Linked DNA regions of Homo sapiens. The protein of the gene in region 3 purifies or fractionates together with the protein of the main gene of each other region. This does not show direct contact. Each region holds a gene or a part of one and is shown on either strand. Other genes may lie near its edges.

What was found. The genes of interacting proteins can lie anywhere in the genome.
Region 1: the proteins of MAGEE1 (region 3) and KIDINS220 purify together in Homo sapiens (affinity purification with mass spectrometry; 2 studies listed by BioGRID and IntAct, with this or other methods). This does not show direct contact.
Region 2: the proteins of MAGEE1 (region 3) and YLPM1 purify together in Homo sapiens (affinity purification with mass spectrometry; 2 studies listed by BioGRID and IntAct, with this or other methods). This does not show direct contact.

The regions. Positions count from the first base shown.
Region 1 is NC_000002.12:8,834,607-8,841,899, reverse strand, and holds the start of KIDINS220 (kinase D-interacting substrate of 220 kDa), read left to right. Parts: upstream 1-4,286; 5' UTR 4,287-4,420; intron 4,421-7,293. UniProt on the Homo sapiens protein: Promotes a prolonged MAP-kinase signaling by neurotrophins through activation of a Rap1-dependent mechanism. Provides a docking site for the CRKL-C3G complex, resulting in Rap1-dependent sustained ERK activation.
Region 2 is NC_000014.9:74,779,851-74,787,322, forward strand, and holds part of YLPM1 (YLP motif-containing protein 1), read left to right. Parts: intron 1-554; coding exon 555-734; intron 735-1,483; coding exon 1,484-2,475; intron 2,476-7,472. UniProt on the Homo sapiens protein: Plays a role in the reduction of telomerase activity during differentiation of embryonic stem cells by binding to the core promoter of TERT and controlling its down-regulation.
Region 3 is NC_000023.11:76,423,327-76,430,830, reverse strand, and holds the start of MAGEE1 (melanoma-associated antigen E1), read right to left. Parts: upstream 3,122-7,504; 5' UTR 2,901-3,121; coding exon 27-2,900; 3' UTR 1-26. UniProt on the Homo sapiens protein: May enhance ubiquitin ligase activity of RING-type zinc finger-containing E3 ubiquitin-protein ligases. Proposed to act through recruitment and/or stabilization of the Ubl-conjugating enzyme (E2) at the E3:substrate complex.

The DNA of each region.
Region 1 (7,293 bases), on a different chromosome or scaffold from region 3:
CCATTGAAAAGCACCACCCATGTGTCAACCCGGCAACTCAGGTGAAAGCCAGCAAGGAGCATGGACGGCTTCATCAGAAGTTGTCAGCGAGGAGCATGGACGGCTTCATCAGAAGTTGACGTGACGCTTGTAAGCCAAAAATAAAATCCTAAGGCCTCCCAACCGTCTGCATGGACCCCTCTTCTCTGCCAAGGGCATTCCAGAGTTAACCTTAACATCTAGTTCAGGCCATGATGGAAGAGGGAGTCAGGCCTCTTTATATCCCTCCAGCATTAACATCAATGTAGACATAAAGTCTGATAAGAAACATTGACAGTCTATTCTCTCTGAAGCCTGATACTTGGCGGCTTCACCTGCTTAATAAAACCTTGGACTTAAAAAGTAAAGTCTTAAAAAGTAGAAAGTAAACCCCTTTCTACTGATAATAACTCTTTCAACCAATTGCCAATCAGAGAAATTTTAAATCTACCTATGACCTGGAAGCACCCCCTCCCTTCCAGCTGTCCCGCCCTTCCAGATGGAACCAATGTAAATCTTACATGTATGGATTGATGTGTTATGCATCCCTAACATGTTTAAAAGCAAGCTGTACCCTGATCCCCCTGGGCACATGTCCTTAGGACTGCCTGAGAGTATGTCACGGGTGCTCCTTAGCATTGGCAAAATAAACTTTCTTAATTGACTGAGACTGTCTCAGATATTTTGGGTTCATACCCTCATGAAACAAGGAGAGAATACCCCCACACATACAATGAAGACCTAAATGGTGTGATTTCTTTGGTAATGGCTTTGCTAAGGGCAGCCACTCTTGTAAACAGGGCGGGGTGGAGGAGGGGGTGTCGGAGGTATGGTGGGATATAAGGATGAAGTCGACCTTAGAGTCGGGGAGAGAACAAGGACAGAGATTAAATGTGCCTTCTTTAACACAGCCTTTCTGAGTCCTGACACTGTCCCAGGCACTGTGCAGTACGAAGATAAGCACGGAGAATGAAATGGCCAACTCTGTGGGGGTCCACTAGGAAGGTTCACAAAAGAGGTGACCCCCTCTGCTGTATCTTAAATAGAATTTGCCCATCACATTCGGTTGGATGAGGCTAGGAAGAATGTCCAGGTTGGAGAACATCACTTTGGAAAAGAATGGAGATGAGAAGGAGCACGGCTCAAAGTTCCAGGAACTGTCAATATTTACCAGCCTTGGGGTGGGAGTAGCAGCGTGGGAGGGGGCAGGAAACAGAGCAGGGCCAGCCTCTGAAGAGCCTCGAGTGTTAAGTACCATTTGGGAATTTGTTCTGGGGAAACAGAAGGCCACTGAAGAGTTTAATGAAAGAAGTGGCATTAGCTGGCAAGCTTGTGGAGAAATGGTTAGCAGGGCTACTGGGTTAGCAGGGAGAGTTGCTGGGGGTATTCGGATAGTCCCGGTTGGGAGCTCTGAGGCCTTTAAACAGATCACTGGGATGAAAGTGGCTACAGTCAGGTGATGGGCTGATTAACTGACCATTTAATCAGGGGGAAGATGACTTCCAACTTCCGGTTTTGGTGGTTAGGGTTGGAGCCAGGTCTCTGAAACTAGTGACGCAGGAGCAAGGGTGGGTGGGAGGGGTATGGGTGAGTCCAGTGGGGACAGAACTCTGCAACCCCAACAATTCATGGGAGGTGGAATCTGAGAAGGAGCTGCCAGAAGAATGGGATAGAAGCCCAGGAGAAGAAATATTTCCAGGAGGGGGCCGGGCGCGGTGGCTCACGCCTGTAATCCCAGCACTTTGGGAGGCTGAGGCGGGCGGATCATGAGGTCAGGAGATCGAGACCATCCTGGCTAACACGATGAAACCCCGTCTCTACTAAATATACAAAAAATTAACCGACCGCGGTGGCGGGCGCCTGTAGTCCCAGCTACTCGGGAGGCTGAGGCAGGAGAATGGCGTGAATCCGGGAGGTAGAGCTTGCAGTGAGTTGAGATCGCACCACTGCACTCCAGCCTGGGCAACAGAACGAGACTCTGTCTCCAAAAAAAAAAAAAAGAAATATTTCCAGGAGGGAGTGCTAAACTGTGCTACCAAGAGAGGGAGGGAAGAGGATGAGGGAGGACAGAAGGAGGACTAGGGGAAGTGGTGGGAGGATTGGAGAGGCTTGGGTGGCTGGAGGAAGACGGGAGGACAGAGGGGGGGATGGGAGGAAGAGGGGTGTGGGGAGAGTTGGGGGAGGATGTGGGGGCAGAGGGTGGAGGAAGCAGTGAGAGGATAAGAGGAGGATGGAGGGGATTGAGGGAAACAGCTGGAGGCTGAGGAAAGATGGGGTTGGGGGGTGGTGGGAAGGGTAGTGGATGCTGGGGGAGGCAGCCTTCTATTTCCATAGGACAAATTTGATACTCTTCTAATCCCTTCAGTGGCCTTCTATTTCCCTAGAACAAATTCCCAAATGGTACTTAACACTCAAGGCCCTTCAGAGGCTGACCCCTGCTCCATCTACTGCCCCCTCCCATGCTGCCACCCCAGCCCCAAGGCTGGCAAATATTGACAGTTCCTGGAACTTTGGGCCACCCTCCTTCTCATCTCTATTCTTTTCCAAAGTGTTGTTCCCCGACCTGGACATTCTTCCTAGCCCCATCCAACTGATGTGATGGACAAACTATACTTCAGATACAGCTGGAGGTGCGGGGGGGGGGGGTCCCTTCTTTTGTGAACCTTCCTAGTGGACCCCAAGCAGAGTTGGTAACTCCATCCTCTGTGCTTACCTCCTTACTGCACTGTGCCTAGGACATGGTCAGGACTCAGAAAGGCTGTGCTAAATAACGCACATTTAACCTGTTTCCTTGTCTTCTCCCCTACTCTAAGGTTGGCTTCATCCTTATATCCTACTGATATGGTTTGGCTCTGTGACCCCACCCAAATCTCATCTCGAATTGTATTCCCCATAATCCCCACGTGTCAAGGGAGGGACTTGGTCGGGGGTGATTGGATCACGTCAGCGGTTTCCCCCGTGCTGTTCTCGTGATAGTGAGTGAATTCTCACGAGATCTGTTGGATGTAAAAGGGGCTTTTGACCCTTTTGCTGGGCACCTCTCTTCCTGCAGCCATGTGACGAAGGACGTGTTTGCTTCCCTTTCCGCCATGATTTTAAGTTTCCTGAGGCTTCTCCAGCCATGCAGAACTGTGAGTCAATTAAACCTCTTTTCTTTATAAATTACCCTGTCTCAGGTGGTTCTTTATAGCAGTGTGAAAACGGGCTAATACACCTACCATACTTCTAACCCCCAACGCCTGACCCACCCTGCCCTGTTTACAACAGTGGCTGGCCTTAGCAAGTCATTATCGAAGAAATCACACCATTTAGGACTCCACTGTACACGTTGGGGTGTTCGCTCCTTGTTTCATGAGGGGCACACCAACTTCCGTTTTTGTTTGTTTGTTTGTTTGTTTGGAGATAGGATCTTGCCCTGTTGCCCTGGCTGAAGTGCAGTGGTGTGATCTCAGCTCACTGCAGCCTCGAACTCCTGGGCTCAAGTGATCCTCTCACCTCTGTCTCCTAAGTGGCTGGGACTACAGGTGTGCAACACCACGCCTGGCTAAGTTTTGTATTTTTGTATTTTTTTTTTTTTTTTTTTTTTTTGTAGAGAAGAGGTCTCTCCATGTTGCCCAGGCTGGTTTCAAACTCCTGAGCTCAAGTGATCCTCCGTCTTGGCCTCCCAAAATGCTGGGATTACAGGAGTGAGCCATTGTCCCCACCCCGCACCAACTTCTGATGAAGTCAGGCTCCTTATTGGCTTTTTCCTGAGTTGCCAGGTTGACACATTGGTGGGTGCTTTTCGATGGTTCGCAACCTACGCACGTCGTAATCATCCTTGGACCTTTTCAAAAATCAAGATTGACGCTTGTTGGCAGCAAGGCCTAGGAATGTGGAGGCTGAAGGAGGTGAGGGGAGGTGCTGGGAGACCTGGAAGGAGTGTGAACTACAGGCCCCGCGAAAGGCAGAGGTCTCGCTCCTGGATCCGGAAGAAGGCTGCTGAGCGGGCTTTCATTTCTTATGTATGTGCAGTTTCTTCTGAAGATATAATTGATGTTTATTTCTCTGAATAAGCTTGATTATAATGGAAAATAGGGATAATAAATTAACTGTAATAAGAGTGACATTGACACTGAAAAACCTTGCCTGGGGCGCTTGTCCTGGGTGTCCCCGCCCCGCGGCCCCTCCAGCCCCGCCTGCTCTACGCCCCGCCCCGCCCCTCCCCTCCACGCCCAGGGGGCGTGGCAACCCGGAGTCCCTCCCCTACCCAGGGCACGTGATCTGTCAGTTCGCGGAGAGGGAAGAATATGGCCGCCGGGTGTGGTGAGGGCGACGCGCTTGCAGTCGCCGTCTCTTGCTTCCCCGTCCTCTGACATCGCCTGCAGCCGAGCGGGCCCGTTCCGCCGGAGCTGAGGACCAGGTTGGGAGACCGTCAGTGTGGAGGCCGGTCCGCGAAGCTTTGCCGCGGGATTGGGGAGGAGTCGGGGGCGAGGCCGGGCTCGGGGAGTCGGGCGGGGAGGTGGGACAGCCGAGGAGTGCGCGGAAGGGGCGAGCTCGGACCGGGGGTCCCGGGGAGGGCATGGCGCGGGCCCCGGACGCTCGGGCCCCGGCTTTCGGGGCGAGTCCGCGTTTCCTGGAGCGCCGGGAAGGTCTCCGACCTTGGAGTCTCTGGTGGTCTGTCTCCTGAGGGGCCCCTCGGGTGGGTTGGGGTGAAGGGTGTTGGTAAAACCGTTTTTTTTCTTTTGCCAAGCAGCCTCTGGCACATCCACCACCTTGAGAGCCCCCTTAGCTGGTACCGCTAGTCTTTCTAGGTTCCTCCTCCTAGGCTTCCACGGGCCGGGAGGTGTTGTTTTCTCCCTTGCTTTTATCGTGGGCTCCATTGCTCCATTGTCCTGTGCAGGCTTTTAAACGCCTGGCAAAATAGTGCAAGCCATTGATTTCCACGCCTCCAAGATTTATTTATAGGGAAATAATTTCTTCATCACTTTGTAATGTTGGAATTTTTATTCTTTCAAGTTGACAGGTTTAAACCGATGAAAAATTTTTTTATGAATAACTATGCAGCCATCTCTGCTCCCTATGGGCGCTTGTTAAAAATGTAGATTTCTTAGCGTTTTAGAGATTCCCATTCCTTCGGCCTGAGGTGTGGCTCGGGAATCACCCCTTCAGGTTCGTTCCTGTCCACATTTTGACAACACTGAGGACCAGACATCTACACCTTTTTAAACCACCGTGGGGTATTGAGTGCAGAGCCCAGGTTGGGAAATGCCGTGGCCAGGTGTGTTCTTTGTTCTCTTCTAGCTTTACTAGCATGGACTACTTTCATCAGAATCATTTTGGGGTGCTTGTTAAAATGTCAGTTTCTGGGCACCACCCCAGATCTAGGGAATGGGATTCTCCCGGGGAGGAGCTCAAGGGATATGTGTATTTGACAAGCTTCCCAAATAATTTTGGTGCACACAAGTTTGAGAATCCTTGTTCTACACCCTTTGTGTGAATAATTTCCAGATCATTCACACACAGTGTGAACGGTATCTTTTTCCAAGTATTGGGTGGGTTTCTCCAACCTAGTTCTTTTGGGACACTTCAAATTCAGCCTGGCCAAAGCCCCATTCGCCCAGCTGGGGTGGTGGAAGGGAGGAGGCATAACTTAAGTAGAGAAAAGTCTGCTCTTTCTCCTGCTTTTTTTTTTTTGGTTAAGGGCAGCTCCATTCTTCAGTCACCTATGCTGGGCATCTGGTCATCTTCCACCTGTTTTCTTTTCCAACCAGTCACATAGTTTTATCTTTATATCCAGAATATCTCTTCTGGATATTTTGGTAGTTCAGAAAGTTCAAATGTCAGGGATTTTATATTTTTCAAGTTAATATCCCTCATTTCTTCTCTATTCCCACTGCCTCTCTTGTGTACTGTCTGGTGATTCCTTGACTGGTATCTAGGGCCCTGATTCTTTGTATTTTTCCAGTCTGGGTCACATACACTGCCAGATTAATTTTTATAGGATCATGTATGAATGTGCCATCCCCTTCTTCCTGCTTTTGCTCAAGAACGGTCAGTTTCTCCATTTTATGTGCTACTGTATTTGTCAGGGCTGTTTAGAAGACAGTAGAAACTTAAACCTTTTACTTCAAGGAAAAGGAGATAATAGGATTGAATGAGAGTCAGAAAGAAGTCAGGATCCCAGGTACCTCCATTTTCTACATCTCCCTGGGGCAACTTTTTTTTTTTTTTTTTTTTTTTGAGACAGGGTCTGGCTCTGTTGCCCAGGCTGGAGTGCAGGTGGTGTGATCTTGGCTCACTGCAGCCCTGACCTCCTCTTAGGGGCCACATTTGTTCTCTTACTTAGGAGGAGTCTCTTTTCTGTTCATATCTGTTGTATTCTCTCTTTGCTGATTGGCTGTCTCAGAACTGTATCATTTTATGTGTGACCCATATTGATTGGCCCAGTCTCTGGTTTCTAATTCCCAGTTCTAGAGAGAGAAGTCTGATTGGCCCAGCTTATCTTTTTCAACAGTTTCATGCCACAGATCATATGCCCATCCCTGGGAATGGCTGATGCTAGAGAACATGGCTGTTGAGGGTAGCAGGGGCTGTGGGTGGGCAAAGTCCTTCAGAAGAGGTATCTTTAGCATACCTATGCAGTTATTTAATTTGATGGTTATCTATTAAGTTTCTACCTGTTCTAGATCTGTAATAGGTTCTGGGGATGTAAGAATGAAGGAGAGAGACAGCCCTTAATAAATTAGTTCAAGGCTGGGCATGCAGGCTCACACCTGTAATCTCAGTGCTTTGGGAGGCTAAGGCAGGAGGATCACTTCAGGCTAGGAGTTCAAGAGCAGCCTCGGCAATATAGCAAGTCCTGTCTCTACAAAAATTAAAAATGTAAACAATGATCTGGGTGTGTTGGCATGCACCTGTAGTCCCAGCTATTCAGGGAGGGTGAGGCAGGAGGATCGCTTGAGTCCAGGAGTTTGAGTCTGCAGTGAGCTATGAATGTGCCACTGCACTCCATCCTGGGCAATAGAGCCAGACCCTGTCTCAATAAAAATAAATAACTAAATACATACATACATACATACATATACATACATAAGTTAGTTTATAGGTGACCCGCGAGGGGGGTTTTGAAGGGTGTGTTTTGGCTTGTTAAGAATGTTAAAGTTGGGTCAGGCATTACAGGTGGTTGGATCAGCTTGGGCATGTCCATTCATTCTACCGATACTGGGTTCTGTGGTGTACCAGGCACTTCTCTTAAGTGCTGGAGATTCAGCAGTAAACAAAACAGATAGTCTT
Region 2 (7,472 bases), on a different chromosome or scaffold from region 3:
TGGAGTGCAGTGACGCGATCTTGGCTCACTGCAACCTCTGCCTCCAAGGTTCAAGTGATTCTCCGGCCTCAGCCTCCCAAGTAGGTGAGATTACAGGTACCTGCCACCATGCCTGGCTAATTTTTGTATTTTTAGTAGAGACGGGGTTTCACCATGTTGACCAGGCTGGTCTTGGACTCCTGACTTCAAGTGATCCACCCGCCTTGGCCTCCCAAAGTTCTGGGATTACAGGTGTGAGCCATGGTGCCCGGCCTGGGACCACTTTCCACTGGGAAAATTGTTGTCATATTTAGGAATAATAAGATTATTATTCCAGTGAAGACTATGGAATTTATAAACTCCTTTGTATTAGTATCCATAATAGTATAGATAGAGCTATGTGTTTTATCTAAAGATAGAATAGCTGTTCTCAATCCAAAAAGAACTGAAGATACTGTGTTTGACAGTTGGATATTTCTGAGTTGTAGGGATTCTGGACTTTATAATACATTTATAAAATATTTTTGCTTGCTGTTTTATGACTTACATAAAGATGTGTCCTCTTTTATCTTTAGTCTGAGGACCCAGAAGAAGATGCCAGGTTAAAGCAGTTGCAGGCTGCAGCAGCACACTGGCAGCAGCACCAGCAGCATCGAGTCGGTTTCCAGTATCAGGGAATAATGCAGAAGCACACTCAGTTACAGCAGATTCTACAACAGTATCAGCAGATTATACAGCCCCCACCACATATACAGGCAAGTGCTTCCATAGTCCACAATAGGAAGTTGCCCCAAGACATTGAAAGGATTTGTTATTCTTGAAAGATTTAAGTGTAAAAAACAAAAGATACCAACTGTTGACAATTAGTTGTTTCCCAAGGGGTGCCCAAGTAGTTATCTGCCACATTACCTGGGGGACTGGGGAGGGGTTGGTTATAGTAGAGTTTCCTGATCATGTCAACCCAGGCCAGATGTTAGCTTACTATTGCTAAGGGTCTTAAGAGCTGGGGATTTTTACCATATAGCTACAGGTTAACCTGTGTTTTGCCTGTAAACTACAACAGTAACAGATAAGCAAAGAGGCCAAAAACAGCCATCACAAAAAACCTAAGCAAATATACCGTAAAAGATAAAGTGACTTAGATACTTGTTTGTGTTGTATCTTTGAGGGGTAATGTTGTGTCTGTATATCTATAATAACAGATCATTTTTCAAGTTCTTGAAATTATCCATATTAAAAACTTGAAAAATACTTATTGCTAAGATAGGTATTTGCTTTATTGTTTGGTTGGTTTTTCCAACTCTGTAGTAAGTTGTCTAAGCCAAAGGAAGGAAGAAGAATGATCATCACTCAAAGAACTTAACGAACTTATTCTTAGCCTCCCAAAGTCTTTAGTGTTCTAATTTCCTAAAGCGTCAAATGCCCTTGATTCATTAATATTTTAACCTATGATTAATTATCTTATATGAATGGTTTTAAATAGTTTTTATCCCTTTATTTGTAGACCATGTCTGTAGATATGCAGCTGCGGCATTATGAGATGCAGCAGCAACAGTTTCAACATCTTTACCAAGAATGGGAGCGAGAGTTTCAGCTATGGGAGGAACAACTCCATTCCTATCCTCATAAAGATCAGCTTCAGGAGTATGAGAAGCAGTGGAAAACATGGCAGGGACATATGAAAGCCACTCAGAGCTATCTCCAGGAGAAAGTCAATTCATTTCAGAACATGAAGAACCAGTATATGGGGAACATGTCAATGCCACCTCCTTTTGTTCCATATTCTCAGATGCCTCCACCTCTACCTACAATGCCCCCTCCAGTGTTGCCTCCTTCATTGCCACCACCAGTGATGCCCCCTGCCCTCCCTGCTACAGTGCCACCACCTGGCATGCCCCCACCTGTTATGCCACCTTCTCTACCAACCTCTGTTCCCCCACCAGGGATGCCTCCTTCTCTCTCTTCTGCAGGGCCACCACCAGTTCTCCCCCCACCTTCCCTGTCTTCTGCAGGGCCACCACCAGTTCTTCCCCCACCATCTCTCTCTTCAACAGCACCTCCACCTGTCATGCCCCTCCCACCATTGTCTTCAGCTACACCTCCTCCAGGAATACCTCCCCCTGGAGTTCCACAAGGGATACCTCCTCAGTTAACAGCAGCCCCAGTTCCACCAGCCTCCAGTTCACAGAGCTCGCAAGTTCCAGAGAAACCTAGACCAGCACTGCTTCCTACTCCTGTGTCTTTTGGTTCTGCCCCACCGACAACTTACCATCCTCCGTTGCAATCAGCTGGTCCATCAGAACAAGTGAATTCAAAAGCTCCTTTGAGCAAGTCTGCTCTGCCATACAGTTCATTCTCATCTGATCAAGGACTTGGGGAGTCTTCAGCTGCTCCATCTCAGCCAATCACTGCAGTGAAGGACATGCCAGTGAGATCAGGTGGCCTGCTTCCAGATCCTCCTAGAAGTAGTTACTTGGAAAGTCCAAGAGGCCCAAGGTAGGTCTGCTTTTTTTTCTCTTTTTTTTTGGTTTGGCTATTTTATTGACTTAGGCTATTTGGTTCTCGATGGTATAAAAAGCTTCATTTATACAATGTTTATACTCTCTTTGTACTTATATTGTCTGCTTGTTAAGACATCACGTATGTAATCTAGAAAAGGTAACATGCCCCCATTTCTTTGATGTCTCTGCTTTTGTCCTATATGTAGAGATTATAATCCAGAATGAATGTAGTATTGTAGAGTAATGCTAATCATTTTGTATTGACTTATTAGCTTTAAAAATAATATTAAACTTTATCTTTTGTTTGCTTTTTCATTCATTTGACAAATAATTGAATTGGCAATTACTATTTGTTAGATAATTTGTTAGTTGTTAGAGATAAAGATGAATAAGCCAATATTCTACTGGCTTGAGGCAGTGAAATTTAGCATAAGGTAAGTAGGACTTTTATTTTATCCATTCAGCAAATATTTAAGTTCCTGCTCTTGTACTTAGAGCAGTGAATATAGCAGAACACATAAAATTCCTGCCCCCATGGAGCTTACATCCTTTATATTTTCCCCAGTTAAGGAGATACTTCTGTTTATCCTGAACAACATATTTAGAAAGAAAAAAAATTGCTGGTGTGTAAGTTTTTTCTCTTTACCTTCTAAAAACTGTTAAATTCATTTTTTCCAAGTTTGTAAAAATAGATTTTTCTCCCCAAGTTGACCTAAATGATAACTTTTCTATGGAAATTATTATTATTTTTTGAGACAGGGTCTCGGTTTTTCACCCAGGCTAGTGTGCAGTGATAGAATTATGGCTCAGTGCAGCCTCTTCCTCCTGGGTTCAAGCAGTCCTCCCACCTCAGCCTCCCAGGTGGCTGGGACCAGAGGTGCGCACCAACACATCTGGCCAGTTTTTAAAAAATACTTCGTAGAGATGGGGATCTTCCTATGTTGACCAGGCTGGTCTCAAACTCCTGGGCTCAAGCGATCCTCCTGCCTTGGCCTCCCTGCCTGCCGTGGCCTCCCAAAGTGCTGGGATTACAGGTGTGAGCCACCACGCTCAGCCAGAAAAATACTTTAATCAGTTTTTTTCTCAGTTGGGAATTGTAGTAGAAATGGGTACTCCTTATACAAAATTCAAACATTACAGAAAAGTGTAGAAAAAAGTGAAAGTCACCTAATTCCACCATCTGGAGAGAATCATTTTAAAAATATATGTTGCAGAAATGGGATCATACTGAGTAGATTATCTTATAACTTATTTTTCCACCAATCTGCGTATTGCTTAGATTTTCATCTCAGTATCAGTGGATCTACATCATCATTTTTTTCAACCTCATTTTAACATTTGAAAACAAAATATATCTTTTATTCCCCAAGCTTATAATTCTGAAAGCAGTGTGGCACAAAACTCCATCCACAATCAAAGTTAAGAGAAAGGGCAATTAACATGAATTCCTCTGTGTACCAAGAAGCCTTGCTAGAGACTTTACACACATTATTATCTCATGGAAGTCTTCTCAACAACCTGTGAAGTAGGCAGATTATTCTCCATTTACTCTTAACAAAATGGCACTGAGAGGACTGCGTAACTTGCTCAGTCAGGATTATTTAGCAGAGTGAGTAGAACCCCAGAATAGGTACAGTTGAGTCTAGAGGGTCCCCAAAGCAAAAGTACTATTTAAGCTCTGTTTACTGCCATGATTCAAGCCTATACTGTCAGTGCTTATTTGGCATGTGTATCATCTTGATTTGAATTCGTTCTTAATCTCCTGGAATGAGCATTGCCTTTTAGATCTGGTAACTAATTTGCTATCAGAGAAGTACATTCTTAACACCTCATGAAACATACATTTCCTGCTCCCTTGATTTCCGTCATGTTAATATTTTCTCTCTTTGCCTACTAAATCTTGGCTGTGTGAATTTAGGACCTATTTTAAGTTTTGTCTTCAGAAGAAAATAACTTCTCAAGTTAATAATCTCTGTGCTGGGAGGATATTAGCAATTATCTAATATATCTGTCTACGGCAACGCACGTTTGTATTCCATTTCAGTTTGTCACAATGAGTCTTGCACATATCATCTTATTTATTCCTCTTAGTGATATCAGGAGGTAAATAAATACATAAGAAAAGCTGAGATTCAGAGAGGTTGTAAATACCTTGCCTCATATAACACAGCTAGTAAATGGTCAAGATGAGATTAGAATCCAAGGACTTCTGACCCACTTTAAGTCCATTGTACTTTCTGTGATGAGCAGTTGTATGCTTAACATTGGCATTGTGATTAGGAACACTGCCATATAAGGCATTGATTCTAGAAAGTTTGTTTTTTACATTGAACCTAAATGTGATTCTTTAACTTTTATCTGTTGATTCTAGATTTGCCTCTGGAGCAACACAGAATGAATTATCCTATGCCTCTTCTACAGCATGTCACTACAGTTATTTAAAAACTATTACCCTCATGTCTCCCTCACCCTACCTCACCCAGTTTGCTCTGCCAATCACAACTCAGATTCTTTTCATCTTAACATTGTTTCTAACCTCATCCTGCTGTACTGCTCACTGTCCTTTGAAGGGCCTTTAGTTTGTTAGTCTCCTTCAGAATGAACACTTACTTCAGATGCAGAGGAGCATGGGCCTAGTACCAACTTCATTATAAATAATGTGCTTATATTGTATAGCTTAACAAATTGCTTTTTTGTTTGTTTTTTTCAGCACTCTCACAGTGTTGACTCTTGTTGAACTTAACATCAATCTAGCTTCCCAGGTCTTTTTCACATTAGCTTTTATTAAGCCAAGTCTCTCTTATCCTGAACTTGTGTGGTTGGTTTTTTGTTTTTGTTTTTCTTGTTCCTTTTTCTAAGACTTTACATTTCTCTTTAGATTGTTTTCTAGTTAGGTTTGCACCATCATTTCAGTCTGCTGAAATCTTGGTCAATGATGATTATATTGTTTTAGGTATGTGATATCCCTCTTCAGCATTTTCATCTGCAGCTTTGATAAGGATGGCTTTTTAATCCTTGAATTGGATCCTACTCACATTATCCACCTTGTTTTGAAAACGTTTCCCCTAACTAGCTTATGTCATTGCCATTTCAGTCACCCCCTGCTGCTTTTGCTCACTCAGCCCTTATAGAGTATAGTTTGGGACTGTTACCCAGGCATAGTTCTTTTTCTCCAGTGTAACTAGGTAAAAAATCAGTGGGAAGCTGGTTAGTGAGTGAACAAGACTGAGGTAAGAATAATCTATACTATTAAGGAAACCTGTGAACTTCTTGTATTTCTAATTCAGATTTTGCTATCAAACATATAACTGATATGAGAAGCCACTTTTTTTAAATAATCAAAGCTGATTAGAAAAACAAGAGTTTAGAACACAACTAAACAAATTTACTGATAACATGCTGTTACAAATAAAGTACTGTAAATGGCTTTGAGTTTTTGCAAAATCCAGATTTAAGCTGCTTTATAAAAACGAGATTTCTAAAAAGTCATGTGACAAAACTGCATGACATGTAAATAACATATCACATTGTTGAGAGTCTAGGGGAGCTGTTTTGACACTGTGTATATCATTGGATTCACTCAGTCTTCCAGAAGACTACCGTTGGTCCAGAAAACTGTCATATCAATGGATGTTGGTTTTCCAGGACCTTTTTTTTCACATATAATAAAACTTATTGAAACGTAACAGAGAAGTGCACAATTTTAAGTGTTCAGCTTAGTGAATTTTCACAAAATAAAGACACACATTGGCCAGGTGCGGTTGCTCATGCCTGTAATCCCAGCACTTTGGGAGGCTGAGGGGGGAGCGGATCATGAGGTTAAGAGTTCGAGACCAGCCTGGTCAATATGGTGAAACCCCATCTCTACTAAAAAATACTAAAATTAGCTGGCATGGTAACATGCGCCTGTAGTCCCAGCTACTTGGGAGGCTGAGGCAGGAGAATTGCTTGAACCCGGGAGGCGGAGGTTGCAGTGAGCCAAGATCGTGCCACTCTACTCCATCCTGGGTGACAGAGTGAGACTCCGTCTCAAAAAAAAAAAAAAAAAAAAAGGCACACATGGTATCACTACTAGATCAAGAAATAGGAATTACTGGTGCCCAAGAAATCTCCCTCATCCCCCTCAGTTATTTTCTAATACCCCAAAGATAACTGCTATACTGAGCCATAGATTAGTTTTGCCTATTTTTGAACTTCATGTGAGTGAAATAATACTGTATGTACTCATGAGTCTGGCATCTTTCACTTGACATTGTATTATTGTGAGAGTCATCCATGTTGTGTGTAGTAGTAGTTTATTCCCGTTCCTGTACAATAGTTCATTGTATGAATATAACACAATCTGTTTATCCATTTTAATATTAATGGTCATTGAAGTTTTTTGGTTATTATGAAAAGTGCTGCTGTGTGTCTTTTGATGCTGTATGTGTCCCTTTAGATGTATGTGTTTGTTTGTGTGTGTTTAATTTTGTTTGGATATCTATTAAGGATTGGAATTGCCTGATTATAGAGTATATACATGTTCTGCGTTAATGGGTATTGTTAAACATTTTTCCAAAGTGGTTGTTTCAGTTTATATTCTCACCAGCAGTGTTTCAGTGTTTCAGTTTTTTTGCATCCTTATCAACACTTGGTATTGTTAAACTTTTAAGGTTTAGCAATCCTAGTGGATGTTTAGTGGTATCATGATAATGGATTTAATTTACATTTCCCTGATGACTAATGAGGTTTCACTTTTTTTATTTGATTATTGTTAATTTGTATTTCCTCTTTTATGAAATGCTGATTCAAGTCTTTTTCCCATTTTTTGACTAGGTTTTATGTCTTACTGATTTTGTAGGAGTTCTTTGTGAATTCTACACATCAGTTTTTTATCCATTATATGTATTACAAATTTCTCACTGCAGGACTTTTTATTTTCTTAATGAGCACTTGAATGTAAACGCTGCATGCTGGGTACAGTGGCTCATGCCTGTAATCCCAGCACTTTGG
Region 3 (7,504 bases):
GGCCCCTCTGACTGCCATGCATTCCTCTACCTGAAGTTGTGAACAAAGATTTGCCTGTGCCCAACATCAGCTCTATTGGCCTCATCTTCCATTGCCTCCCTGTACTGCTGTGGCCAGTCCTGTGGTTCCTTTCTGTGGATTCTGGCCACATATCGCAAGGCTTTCATCTTAGAGGTTTCCAAACGGGCTCTAGGACCCCATACAAACTCATATTGCACTGGATCACTGTCAGGAACCCGTAAACTGTCTATATAGCGCTGACTCAAGTATCTGCAGGTAATCACATGCTTTCTCCCAGCTTGAACCCCTAAGCCCCGCAGAAAGGCCCAGACTGCAGACTCCCTGGCATGGTTGCCCATAATAAAGATGAAGCTTAGGACCTGCATCAAAAAGTTGTTGCCAGGCCTGTTTGGACTGTCTACGATCTCCTCAGTTTCTTCCATCTCCCTTCGGTTGTACAGAGTATAGGAGTGATTCCTGGGATCAAGTACCACTAGTTCTGTCCCATAGACATGGTTCAGGGTGCGGGCAGCACGATTCAGGAGGTCAGGGAACACTTTGCTGCACTCTCGGCCAATGTAGTACAGAATTCCTTTCTTTGGTATAGGCAGCTTAGTTGAATCCATAAGCAGAAATAACTGCACCAGCTTCCTTGCCTTGCTCTCCAATCTTGACTCAGGCCATGAATGTGGGGCATATTTTGAGGAATAGCTGGAAACCTCTGAATCAGGGGATGGTACCTCTGCAGCAGCTTCCTCAAAAAAGGGCCTCCTAAAGTGAGGGAGAGCCTGCCAACCCTCAGCAAAGGCTCTGGCAGCATCTTCTTCCAGAGCTTCGTTGTATTTCTCTGGCCAATCCATAGGATCTTTGTTATATATTTTCGCCATGAACTTCAGAATTTTCATCTTGGTGGTTTCTAGGTGGGATCTTGGGCCCCAGAAAAACTCATACTCCACTGGTTTACAGTCAGTTACTGGCCTGTAGTCTAAGTAACGCTGCCATACAAACTCCACAGACAGAAGTCTCTTTGGGTTCCCAAAAATGGAAAGCCTCCTTTCCCGCTGCACCCCCATCCTCCAGAGCATTTCCCAAATCTCAGCCTCCTTGGCTTGGTTGCCATTCAGGAATATTTGGCCTAGAATCATCATCAGGAGGCCCATCTTTGGCCCATTTGGGCTCTCTTCTAACCCTTCAAAGGGCACAGGTCCCAGTTTGTTTAACAGAATGTAGGTGTGTGCCTCAGGGTCAAGTTCTCTCAATTCAAACCTAAAAATGCACTCCAGGTGGGCTGCTGCTCGCCTGAGTATCTCAGGAAACTGGTTGCGATATTCTTTAACAATATATTCCCGCATTTCAGACTCCCGGATAGGGTACTTGCTCTGATCCTTCACCAGCAGGAACTGCAACAGCTCAGCTACGTTCTGTTCCATAGGGTCTTGGGGCTTCAGGGTAATTGCAACCCGGGAAGTATTGAGGCCCATAATACTAATGGAGTTGGGGCTCTCACAGTCTCTCAGGACCTCGAATTCTATAGGGCCTTCTGCACCCTTAGGACCCTCAGAATCTGAGTCCACGGAGGCCTTGGTTACCCTAGGGCTTGGCAAAACAAGGGAACACTTGGAGGGGTTCCGGTCCACAGAAGCACTAGAGCTAAACAATGTGCTCGGGCCCTCACCAGGGTTAGGCAGCACGGAGCTTCCCGGTCCGTCAGGGGCGGTGGGCTGCACTAAGGTGCTTGCGCCCTCACCAGGAGTGGGCGGCACGGAGGTGTCCGATCCATCAGAGGCGGTGGGCGGCACAGAGGTGCTCAGTCCCTCACCGGGGATTGGCAGTACGGAAGTGCTTGGTCCCTCACCGGGAGTGGGCGGCACGGAGGTGCTCAACTCCTCAGTGGCGGTGGGCGGCACGGAGGTGCTCAGTCCCCCACCAGGGGTGGGCGGCACGGAGGTGCTCGATCCCTCACCAGCAGTGGGCTGCACGGAGGTGCTCAGGCCCTCGGTGGCGGTGGGGGGCACGGAGGTGCTTGATCCCTTACCGCGGGTGGGCACCAAGGAGATGCTTTGTCCGTCAGAGGCGGCGGGCAGCACGGAGGTGCTCGGTCCCTCACCAGGAGTGGCCGGCACGGAGGTGCTCGGTCCCTCATCACGGGTGGGTGGCACGGGGGTGCTTAGGCCCTCAGTGGCGGTGGGCGGCACGGAGGTGCTCGGTCCCTCATCAGGAGTGGCCTGCACGGAGGTGCTCAGGCCCTCAGTGGCGGCGAGCGGCACGGAGGTGCCTGGTCCCTCACCAGGTGTAGGCAGCACGGAGGTGCTTGGTCCCTCATCAGGGGTGGGCACCACGGAGGTGCTTGGTCCCTCATAGGCTGTGGGCGGCACGGAGGTGCTCGTTCCCTCACCAGGGGTGGGCGGCAGGGAGGTGCTCGGTACCTCAGAGGCGGTGGGCGGCACGGAGGTGCTAGGTTCCTCAGAGGAAGTGGGCGGCCTGGAGGTGTTCCGGCCCTCAGAGGCGGCAAGCGTCACAGAGGTGCACAGCCCCTTAGAGATGGTGGGAGGCCCGGAGGTGCTTAGGCCCTCACTGGGGGTGGGCAGCACGGAGGTGCCAGGTCCCTCAGAGATGGTGGGCTGCCCGGAGGCGCTTGAGGCCTCAGAGATGGTGGGCGGCACAAAGGTGCTTGGGCCCTCAGCGGAGGTGGGCAGAACGGAGGTGCTTGGGCCCTCAGAGGCGCAGAGGCCCTGGAGGATCTGGGAATCGCTGGGACCCTGGGGGACGTCTGAGCCTGGCACATCAGCGGGGAGACCGGGGGCATTAGGGGCCTGCATTTCGCCCCAGCTGCTGTTGTGCGCAGTAGCCTTTGCAACGCGGCGGCGGCGGCGGCGCGAATTCTGGCTTACCAGAGACATGGTCCTGCCCACCGGCGTTGGCGTGTAGGAGCAGACACCGACAGGCCCGCGATCTGGCAGAGAGGACGGGAGGTGTGTAGGTGCCTCGGCACAAAACTGCCGCTAGCGGTAATGATGTTGCTGCTGCTGCCAGAACCAAAGTTCCAAGCAACTGCTGAAGCTGAAATTAGAGGTGGTGAAAAAGGCAGGCACTGGCCAGCAGTGAATGCTAGTCTCACTGTACTCTGCTTCTCACACCCCGCCCTCTGCCGCAGTCCGCGCAGGCGCAGACTGGCTCTGCGGCAAGGCGAAATCGCCCCGCCCCGCCCCTCCCCTGGGCCTGAGAAAGTGGATGCGGTGGTTCTGCACCAAAGGAGAGCACTAGCAGAAGGGAAACTTTGGTAGGGTGAAGCAAGGAGCTTAGAGTAGATGCATTAGGGAGTAAAAATGGAAATAATAATAAATACTTCTCAGATTTAGGGTACGATTGGAGGGCTTCTACACAGAGTGCCAGGCACTTAATAGATTCTCAAAATTGGTAAATATCATTGAGATTTGCAGTTTTCCCGAAGCTGTTTCAAAGAAAATGTGCATTGTCTCTGGAAGGGTAGAACCCCCATCCCTGACCATGTCTCTTCTATCACTTTCTCCATTTATGTGTCTAACTCCTCCCCTAATGTTGTGAGCTAGAAAGAACTCTTTCCTAGAGGGTCTGAATGCCTGAAATTTAGTACCAATTAGGGAGCTTCGAACACGCTTGAAAAGCCCAACATTCCCAGCCCAAACTTTCCCAGTCACCCAGGCTTTAGTGGGAAAGCCACTAAAACTCTTGAAAATTTGTTTAATTCTTTCACTCCACAATCACCTGCTCATTTAATAGAGCTTTTGTGAAAGTCAGTTGAGATACCGAGTGTTAAGGGATGTGTTACCTGCTCTGTTTTGCTCTATTACTCTAGCACTTTTGAGCAGATCCAACCCTGATCCCTTTATTCATTCACTCAACAAACACTGGTCATCTATCCCGAAGTTACAGTTAATCTCTTTGTCATCAAGGAGCACCCGATGTAAAAATGGGAGTCAGAGAAAAAGTAAAGCTAAATTTTCTAGAAGTTTGTAAAGAATGCAGGGGATGGCAGGGTCAGTTCTACCTGTAGATGCAGAAAAGGCTTCATAAAAGAGGAGATGTTTAAAAAGATGAGTGGGTAGATATTTACCAAAAGGACAAGGATGAGAAAATCATTCCAACTGAGAGTAGCACGGCAGCAGTGAGTAAGAAAGAAAACACTGAAGAGGACGGGCAGGCTGTTTTTAGAAGTAGGGGAGAGAGAGAGAGGAAGAGAGATAGAGGGAAAACACTAACTTTCTGACACTCACACAACCACTACAATTCAGCTTACCACTATTGACCCTTTATTGATATGTTTATATCTTGCTGCAAACATTTATTATATGTTGTCTTTCTTTATATCTTCTCAAAAATCTGGGAGTATACTTTTGTCTTTTTTTCTTTTTTTTTATACTTTAAGTTTTGGGGTACATGTGCAGAATGTGCAGATTTGTTACCTAGGTATACACGTGCCATGGTGGTTTGCTGCACCCATCAACCCATCATCTACATTAGGTATTTCTCCTAATGCTATCCCTCCCCTATCTCCCCACCTCTTGACAGGCCCTGGTGTGTGATGTTCCCCTCCCTGTGTCCATGTGTTGTAATTGTTCAATTCCCACTTATGAGTGAGAACGTGTGGTGTTTGGTTTCCTGTTCTTGTGTTAATTTTCTGAGAATGATGGTTTCCAGCTTCATCCATGCCCCTGCAAAGGACATGAACTCATCCTTTTTTATTGCATAGTATTCCATGGTGTATATGTGCCATGTTTTCTTTATCCAGTCTGTCATTGATGGGCATTTGGGTTGGTTCCAATACTTTTTTTTAATACGTCTTTAGGAAAGGGAAAATAACTGGCTACAGTCACAATGTGTCACCATCTCTGTCTCCAATTGGAGAAGCAATCCCTTATATGAATAACCAGTTTCGGTTCTGTGAAGTCCAATGCAGTTTTTATGCCTGGGGCCTATTCAGAATGGGAGGCACAAAAAAACCTAAGATATTTCTAAGCTTTAGCAACAGATATTCCTAACCTAGGGTACAGTGATTTTTAAAGACCCTGAAGTTGTTCAAACCTATAAACTAAAAATTTTTACCTCTAGAAATATATTCTAAAGAAATAATAAGATATATGTGCAAATATTTAGCTAAAATAACTTTTATTATATAATTTGTTCTAGTATAACAGAGCTGAAAACTAAATGAATGTTAAATAACTAAAGAGTATTTGAAGAAATTATGGTACTAAAAATGGAATACCAGTAAGTCATTATAATGATATCAAAGAATTCCATTTCTAATAATGTATAGTTGATTGCAGCAGCCCTGCGGAAAAAAAACCCCAGAAATTTAGGTAAAGAAACCCTTTTATGGCAACAAAGGCTACCAATATAGCATCAGAAACCTATAAAGGCAATGAGGACTTCAAGAGTAATGATCTCAGAAAAAAGGGAAGTGCAAAGAGGTGAGTCTTACATTGTATACAAGTTTGTCACTTAAGGAATTTAATGATTTGTAAGCTGATAATTTGGAATTCTGAACTTACTGAAATAGTACATCAAAAATGAAGGCAAAATAAATACATGTTCAGAAATCAGTGCTGAGTAAATTGATCACCAGTACACCCACACTGAGGAAATACTGAAAGGTTCTCCTCTGAAACTGAAGAGATGCAAGAAGCGAACAGTAATAGAAAGGATAAATATGTGGGTAAACAGACATATTGACAATGTAAAACAATAATAATAATATGTTTTGTGTAATTTATATGTAGAATTAAAATATAGGAAACAAGTGAGTGCAAGAGATTTGGGGACTGATCAAGAAAAATATATACTACCACACGTTTTCAGTAACACACAATGAGTTTTTGTTGTTTGTCTGTTTTAGAATTTCAACTTTTATTTTAGATTCTGGGGATACATACACAGGTTTGTTATATGGGTATATTGCATGATGCTGAGGTTTGGAAAACAGATGATCTCATCACCCAGGTAGTGAGCATAATACTCAACAGTTTTTCAACCCATGACCCCCTTTCTTCTTCCCCCTTCTAATAGTCCTCCAGTGTCTGTTTTTGCCACCTTTATGTTGATGAGTACCCAATCTTTAGCTCCAACTTATAAATGAGAACATATGGTATTTGGTTTTCTGTTTCTGTGTAAATTCGCTTAGGATAATGGCCTTCAGCTGCATCCATGTTGCTGCAAAGGACATTATTTCATTAGTTTTTATGGCTGTGTTGTATTCCATGGTATATATGTACCACATTTTCTTTAGCAAATATCAGTGATAGACACCTAAGTTGACTCCATGTCATTGCTCTTGTTAATAAGGCTGCAAACAACTATGAGTGTATGTGTCTTTTTGGTTGAATGATTTCTTTTCTTCTGGATATATGCCCGATAATGTGATTACTGAATTGAATGGTAGTTGTGTTTTATGTTCTTTGAGAAATCTCCAAACTGCTTTCTATAGTGGTTGAACTATATATAGTGTTTATTATTACTAATTTACATTCCCACCAACAGTGTATAAGCATACGAGTTTCATTTGGTCAACCCTTTGACAGGTTTGCAAGGGCATGGGGTTAATCAAAGTCTGAGATCTTCCAGAGGCTGGTGGGAGGTCACAACCTAGAAAATGAGAGGACAAGCTAACTGGAGAGAGGGAGGGGAATCAAAGAGATGGCTTATACATGTAGCGATGTCTCTCAGCAGCAAGACAGGGAGTTGCTGGGTCAGAGATCTCTGAAGGGCAGCAGTAGGTTAGGGTTTTTATCTCCTGGAGTTTATCCTATCTATAGCTAACAGATGATTGTAGTTTCACAGGGACATGCAAAGAAGGCAGCCTCTAAATGGCTAACAATCTACTTATTGGTCTATATTTAAAACAATTGATGTGTAAAAAATTGAGTTTGGTACTGGCAGAATCAATATATAGAGACTATCTTTGGCTCATGCATATAACAGTCCATCCCCTGGCCCAATGTTGTCTTATAATTAAAATTGTATGTTATTTTGCAGTGCCTAAGTTTCTTGCCAGAAATAAAGGAGACAGAATCCTATAAGGGTACAAACAAGGATTTCAAAACCCTTTCATAGCCAATCTGCCCACGTAATGGAGGAAAGCCAGGGGAATCGATTAGAAAAAGGAGCAGATTTTAATTTGTTCAATTGTTCAGTCAGTAGAGTGACATTATAACCCCTTTGCTACATGTTCCTGTCTATCCATAATGCTAGAATCAGATTGGCAGAAGCAAGTCCAACATGCAGTTAAATTTGTCATTATATGTGTTTCTGTGACTTAAGATATCTGCAGGTTTAGGCAAATGAATGTTCCTCCTTATTTGGATTGGTGTGCCTTGCTTGAGTTTCCGGGTGATTGCCAGTAGTAAATAGCATCAGAATGTTTGCATGGGTCTAGAGTAAGCTTCACAGTATCTCTTGGCAGTTTTTAAAAAGTTATTAATTTATACATGCACCAAATTTGATTCTGAACTGTGGAGTACTCACATAT